2 linked regions of the Homo sapiens genome follow. The protein of the gene in region 1 purifies or fractionates together with the protein of each later gene. This does not show direct contact. Each region holds a gene or a part of one and is shown on either strand. Other genes may lie near its edges.

What was found.
Region 2: the proteins of FAM199X (region 1) and ZNF627 purify together in Homo sapiens (co-immunoprecipitation; one large-scale study listed by IntAct). This does not show direct contact.

What each region holds. Positions count from the first base shown.
Region 1 is NC_000023.11:104,183,345-104,186,998, forward strand, and holds part of FAM199X (protein FAM199X), read left to right. Parts: intron 1-2,721; coding exon 2,722-2,871; intron 2,872-3,115; coding exon 3,116-3,277; intron 3,278-3,654.
Region 2 is NC_000019.10:11,603,941-11,607,594, reverse strand, and holds part of ZNF627 (zinc finger protein 627), read right to left. Parts: intron 3,386-3,654; exon of another isoform or gene 3,231-3,385; intron 1-3,230. UniProt on the Homo sapiens protein: May be involved in transcriptional regulation.

The sequences.
Region 1 (3,654 bases):
AAAAAGAGATGGTATTCATATGTGCATTCAGCAATCATCCTTTCATAACACCACCTAGATAACAATTAGGGTCAAGGGTGAACAGTTCAAGCAGTGTTAGTTAATGAGATTTTATGTTTTGTTTTCTTTTGTTTTTTTTTTTGAGATGGTCGCTCTGTCTCCCACGCTGGAGTGCAGTGGCACGATCTCGGCTCACTGCAACCTCCACCTCCTGGGTTCAAACGATACTCCTACTTCAGCCTCCTGAGTAGCTGGGATTACAGGTGCGCACCACCACACCCAGCTAATTTTTGTATTTTTAGTAGAGACGGAGTTTTGCCATGTTGGCCAGGCTGGTCTCGAACTCCTGACCTCAGATGATCCACCCACCTCCGCCTCTCAAAGTGCTGGGATTACGGGCATAAGCCACTGCGCCCAGCCGTTAATGAGATTTTAAAAGAAGTTATACAGATTGTTGGTAGTCACTTATGTACTTGGACTTGTCAATAACTGTCATAGTGAAAATGTGGTTTTTAAGAGTAGTAGCTACTTATGGGGGTGTAGAAAGAATGGCCTCTCTCTTAGACAATTTCATTTTAAACATCATAGTCATCTTTTGCATAGTGATTGACTCCTATCTTTGTGGTTTCATGTATTTCTTTGTGATTGATTCCCCAGTGCCTGCCTGCAGTCCATTGCAACTCTCCCAAACTTTAATCCTGCAGCTTCAGCCCACTGCTAGATATTTCCATTGATGACCTGTCATCTGAAACCTAGCATTCATCATGTGCTGTGTTGTATAATTGTATGTCTGTGTTATTGTATTACTTTCCCAAGTAAAGTTTTTGTGTAAGGACTTAACACTGCTTTGAATCCCCTGTACCTATTATACTGCTGTGTACAAAGTAGGAGTTCAAATACATGTGATCACAATAGTCTTCATGACTAAAGTAGCTCTTCGCTTTTTTGGTAACCGCAGAAGCCTAGAAATCATCCAGAGTTCAGATACAGTTGCAAGCTCTATAGAACCAAAACACAGCAAAAAGGTACTGTTTTATACCTTGTAAAAATGAAGTCAGTATATTTGAAAATTGTCATTTGCTCCTTGTAGAAGAAAAGACTTTACCTTTTTGATGAATGACTTAAATATATTTATTTAAAATTAAATCCATTCTAACTTTTGGAGGTAATGGATATATTTATAACCTTGGTCATGGCGGTGACCATGCATATACTTGAGTATATGCATATGTGCAAAAGTATACATAAATATATATAAAATTATAGCATGTATTTTTGCTGTTTGTCTTAAATTGATTTTCTGTATGTTAGGCTTGCTTTTATTCCTCCTTTGTCTACACTTTGTCTTCTATGATTTTTTTCTAATTTTTCTCTTGTAATACTTCTGGTTCTTAAAGTGTTTTACTTTATTTTAACAGCATATTTAAAATTATTTTATTATTTATTTATTTTTTGAGACTGAGTCTTACTCTGTCGTCCAGGCTGGTATGCAGTGGCACAAACACGTCTCATTGCAGCCTCAACCTCCCAGGTTCAAGCGATCCTTACATCTCAGACCACAGGCATGTGTCACCACACCCAACTAATTTTTTTTCCTTTCTTTTTTTTTTTAATAGAGATGAGGTCTCGCTATGTTGGACAGGCTGCTCTGGAACTCCTGGGCCCAAGCGATCCTCCCACCTCAGCCTTGCAAAATGCTGGAATTACAGGCATGATAATTTTTTTTTTTTTTTTTTTTTTTTTAGAGAGACGGGGTCTCGCCACATTGCCTAGGCTGGTCTTGAACTCCTAGGCTCAAGCAGTCCTCCTGCCTCTGCCTCACAAAGTGCTGAGATTACAGGCGTGAGCTACTTTGCCCGGCCTTAATTTATTTTAATTGTCTTGAGGTCACTAATACAGACTTGAGGTCAAAGACCAAGATGTATTTGTCTTTATATTGACAATATGTTTAGCACAGTCTCTGGCAAAAAGCCAGTTAGTGGCACATCATTCAGGTCTCCCCAGATGGAGACCAGTGCTTCTTTTTCATTACAGTGTGGAGGCCCTAGTCATATTCTCATTATACATTAAAAACTTTAATGATGATTGACTCTTCGGTTACCATTTTAATAAGTCTTGATTATGAGTCTAAGCTTTTCAAAAACATCTTTCATTGAATAACTATATGCAAAGAATATATATTTATATACTTATGTTGCTGCTTTGTATAAAATAGGCATGGATCAGAATTAATGTCCTCTGATTCTATATTTGCCATTAGTCTTTTTTCTTTTTTTTTCTTTTGAGATGGAGTCTGACTATCTCCCAGGCTGGAGTAGTGCAGTGGCACCATCTCGGCTCACTGCAACCTCCACCTCCCAGGTTCAAGCGATTCTCCTGCCTCAGTGTCCCGAGTAACTACAGGCACAGGCCACCACACCCAGCTAATTTTTGTATTTTTAGTAGAGACAGGGTTTCACCATGTTGGCCAGGCTGGTCTCGAACTCCTGACCTCAGGTGATCCACCTGCCTTGGCCTCCCGAAGTGCTGGGATTACAGGCATGAGCCACCACGCCGGGCTGCCATTAGTCTTATATTAAAGGAAGCCCTCTTAGCACAGCCAGCAGCACGTCAGTCTCATAAACTAACTTTTAATCGATGTGGAAAATATATTGTAGTATTTAAAATGTAGTCTGAACAAATTTTGCTTTCCTTCCCCACACCCTCCTTATTTTTATAAAGTTACCAGGCAGTGACATTGCCAGTGGGAGTGATGTACTTTCTGATGTCATACCCAGTATTCCAAGTTCACCTTGCCTGCTTCCTAAAAAGAAAAACAAGCACCGGAATTTAGATGAACTCCCTTGGAGTGCAATGACAAATGATGAGCAGGTAAAGATCTTGACATTCTTAATTAAAAGCTTTTATGTGGAGACTAGGTAAAGCTCAGTTTATTGCCTGTTTAAAGCTACTGGGGAAATGTGGATTGCTTAGTAAATCTGAATTTGAGCTTTAACGGTTTTTCAGGGAACAAATATAACCTTAAGTGCTTCTGCTATGTAAACACATTATAATTGACATAATAAAGGATCAGAAGTTTTAGCAATGATCTTATTGTAATTTTTTCATCACATAGGTGGAATATATTGAGTATCTGAGTCGGAAAGTGAGTACTGAGATGGGTCTTCGGGAGCAACTTGATATTATTAAGATCATTGATCCTTCTGCTCAAATCTCCCCTACAGACAGTGAGTTTATTATTGAACTTAACTGTCTCACAGATGAAAAACTGAAGCAGGTATGTAAAGAAAATACAGATTATTTACCTATTAAAAATACCACCATCTTATAAAATGTAGACTAAAATAATCATGTGTAAATACATAGATAATTAAGGCCAAAATCACTGCTGCGAAAGGTAATATTAGAAAAAATGATGGCACATTGATTTAAGAGGTTTTATGTACATCTCACCTGCCAGTACCTTTCTGGGATCAATGTGAATCTAGAACCTGCTTTTCAGTTGTATAGGATTTGAAATTTAATGTCACCATTTACGGAGTGGTTAGGTTAAGGTATAGATTTATTCTAACTCAGTTTACAGGAGACTAATTGACAATCAAAATACTAATTAATGAGAGCTATTCTTTGATAAACAGCTGAGGGATTTGAGTA
Region 2 (3,654 bases), on another chromosome or scaffold:
TTTTGCCCCTGCCCTAGAGATCTGTGGAACTTTGAACTTGTGAGAGATGACTTACGGTATCTGGTGGAAGAAACTGCTAAGCGGCAAAGCATTCAAGAGGTGACAGAACATTAAAGTTTGGAAAAATTGCAGCCTGACAATGGAACAGAAAAAAAAACCCAGCCAGGCGTGGTGGCTCATGCCTGTAATCCAGCACCTTGGGAGGCTGAGGCAGGCGGATAACCTGAGGTCAGGAGTTTGAGAGCAGCCTGAGCAACATAGAGAAACCCCTTCTCTACTAAATATATAGAATTAGCTGGCCGTGGTGGCACATGCCTGTAATCCCAGCTACTCGGGAGGCTGAGGCAGGAGAATCGCTTGATCCTGGGAGGTGGAGGTTGTAGTGAGCCAAGATTGCGCCATTGCACTCCAGCCTGGGCAACAAGAGTGAAACTCTGTCTCAAAAAAAAAGAAAAGAAAAGAAAAACCCATTTTCTGGGGAGAAATTCAAACCAGCTACAGAAATTTGTGAGTAACGAGAAGCCAAATGTTAATCACCAAGACAATGGAGAAAATGTCTCCAGGACACATCACAGACCTTCATGGCAGCCCCTCCCATCACAGGCCTAGAATCCTAAAAGGAAAAAATGGTTGGTTTCCTGGGCCTGGTCCAGGGCCCCTTGCTGTATGCACCCTAGGGACTTGGTTCCCTGTGCCCAGCCACTCCAGCCATTGCTAAAAGGAGGCAAGGTACAATTCGGGTCATGGCTTCGGAGGGTGCAAGCCCCAAGCCACAGCAGCTGCCATGTGGTGTTGGTCCTGTGGGTGCACAGAAGACAAGAATTGAGGTTTGGGAACCTCTGCCGAGATTTCAGAAGATGTACAAAAACGCCTGGGTGTCCAGGCAGAGGTGTGCTACAGGGGCGGAGCCCTCATGGAGAACCTCTGCTAGGGCAGCGCAGAAGAGAAATGTGGGAACTGGAGCCCCCACAGAGAGTCCCCACTGTGGCACTGCCTAGTAGAGCTGTGAGGAGAGGGCCACCATCCGTCCTCAAGAACCCCAGAATGGTCAATCCACTGACAGTTTGCACCACGCACCTGGAAAAGCCACAGACACTCAGTGCCAGCTGTGAAAGCAGCCAGGAGTGGGGGCTGTACCTTGCAAAGCCACAGGGGCAGAGGTGCCCAAGGTTGAGGGAGCCCACCTCTTGCATCAGCATGACCTGGATGTGAGACGTGGAGTCAAAGGAGATTCTTTTTTTCTTTCTTTTTTTTTTTTGAGACAGAGTCTGGCTCTATCACCCAGACTGGAGTGCAGTGGCATGATCTCGGCTCACTGGAACCTCCGCCTTCTGGGATCAAGCAATTCTCCTGCCTCAGCCTCCCGAGTAGCTGGGATTACAGGCGCGTGCCACCATGCCTAATTTTTTGTATTTTTAATACAGACAGGGTTTCACCATGTTAGCCAGGATGGTCTTGATCTCCTGACCTCATGATCCGCTTGCCTCGGCCTCCCAAAGTGCTGGGATTACAGGTGTGAGCCACCGCGCCTGGCCAAGGAGATTATGTCAAAGCTTTAAGATTTAATTACTGCCCTACTGGATTTGGGACTTGCATAGGGCCTCTAGCCCCTTTGTTTTGGCCAATTTCTCCCATTTGGAATGGGTATATTTACCCAATGACTGTATCTAGGAAGTAGCTAACTTGTTTTTGATTTTACAGGCTCATAGGCAGAAGGGACTTGCCTTGTCTCAGATGAGTTTGGACTTGTACTTTTGAGTTAATGCTGGAATGATTTAAGACTTTGGGGGACTGTTGGGAGGGCATGATTGTTTTAAAATGTGAGGATATGAGATTTGGGAGGGGCTGGGGGTGGAATGATATGGTTTGGCTGTGTCCCCACCCAAATCTCCTCTTGTAGTTCCCATAATCCCTGAATGTCATGGGAGAGAGCAAGTGGGAGATAATTTAATCATTGGGGTGGTTACCTCCATGTTGTTCTCATAATAGTGAGTTCTCATGAGATCTGGTTTTATAATGGGCTTCCCCCACCTTTCCCCCACCTTTAGTCTGCACTTCTCCTTGCTGCTGCCATGTGAAGAAGGACATGTTTGCTTCCCTTCCACCATACTTGTAAGTTTCCTGAGGCCTCCCCAGCCATACTGACCTGTCAATGAAATCTCTTTCCTTTATAAATTACCCAGTCTTGGGTATGTCTTTATTAGCAGCATGAAAACAGACTAATACAGAGCCCTGGGAAAAACTAGGCTGAAGAGGCTGGGCACGGTGGCTCATGAGGTCAGGAGTTCAAGACCACCCTGGCCAAGATGGTGAAACCTTGTCTCTACTAAAAATACAAAAAAAAATTAGTCAGGCCTGGTGGTGGGCACCTGTAACCCCAGCTACTTGGGAGGCTGAGGCAGAGAATTGCTTGAACCTGGGAGGCAGAGGTTGCAGTGAGCCATGATCGCACCACTGCACTCCAGCCTGGGTGACAGAGCAAGACTCCATCTCAAAAAAAAAAAAAAAAAAAAAGAAAGAAAGAAAAACTAGGCTGAAGAGGTCTCAAGTACTCCTTCCTTCACCAAACTTGAGTCAAGCTCCTCAGAGCCCTCTTTTTGACTAGGGCTTGGCACTGGCCTGCAGAAGTCAGTTTCAGCAAGAATCCATCTAAGGTAGTTTATAGAGACTCCTCCTACCTTAATATCCAATCAAGTTCTTTTTCTCCCACCTATGAGACCCAACCAAGTTCCATTCTCTCCCTCACCTTGTACATTGGCTATAAATCCAATAATATTCCTGCTGCATTCAAGGCTGAATTCAATCTCCCTCCCCTATTACAGCTGTCATGACTCACTGCAATTGTGCTTAATAAACTTTTCCTTGACATTCTTAACAAGTTTCCAGTGCAATCTCTCTTTAACAGGGAACAAGGCTGTAAACTTGAGACCCTGGTTCATTTATCTGAAATGCATAGGGGATGACAGGCTCCCTCCCACTGGGGATGAAGGAGCTGGGAACCACACATGCCATTCTGCTGGGCCCACCCAAGTCTGAATCCATGGAGGGGGAGGGTGTCCTGAGAGTACCTCCCACCCACAAACCCAAAACACCAGGCTCAGATTTCTCTCTGGATGGCCACTCCCTGTTGTCACCCCATGATCTGGGTGAGATCCAGGATTGCAGGTGCACAACTGCCCAGAGAGAGGTCCAGGAGGTAGACTGCCTCCTACAGTGATGGGACAGGATACCTGGGAGTCCTGGCTGCCAATTCAGCCCCCACCCTGATGGAGTGTGATGGAGGGGACTGAGACTCAGGCTGCTTCTGGATAAGATGCCCCACCAGACACAGGATTTGCAAGTCGTTCTTCCACTTGGTGAATTATCTTTTCAAGTTCTTGGTGTCCTTTGAAGAACAAAAATTACCAATTTTGATGAAGTGTAAACTTTAGTTAGTAACATATTGGCTCACCAATTCTGATCATCATCATATATGATATATTGGTTCATCAATTATATGATATATATGATATCATATTTACGTACTTTGGGAGGCCAGGATGGGAGAATCACTTGAGCCAGGAGTTAGAGATCAGCCTGGACAACATAGTGAGACCCCCATCTACCAAAAAAAAAAAAAATTAGCCAGATGTGGTGGTGCACACCTGTGGTCCC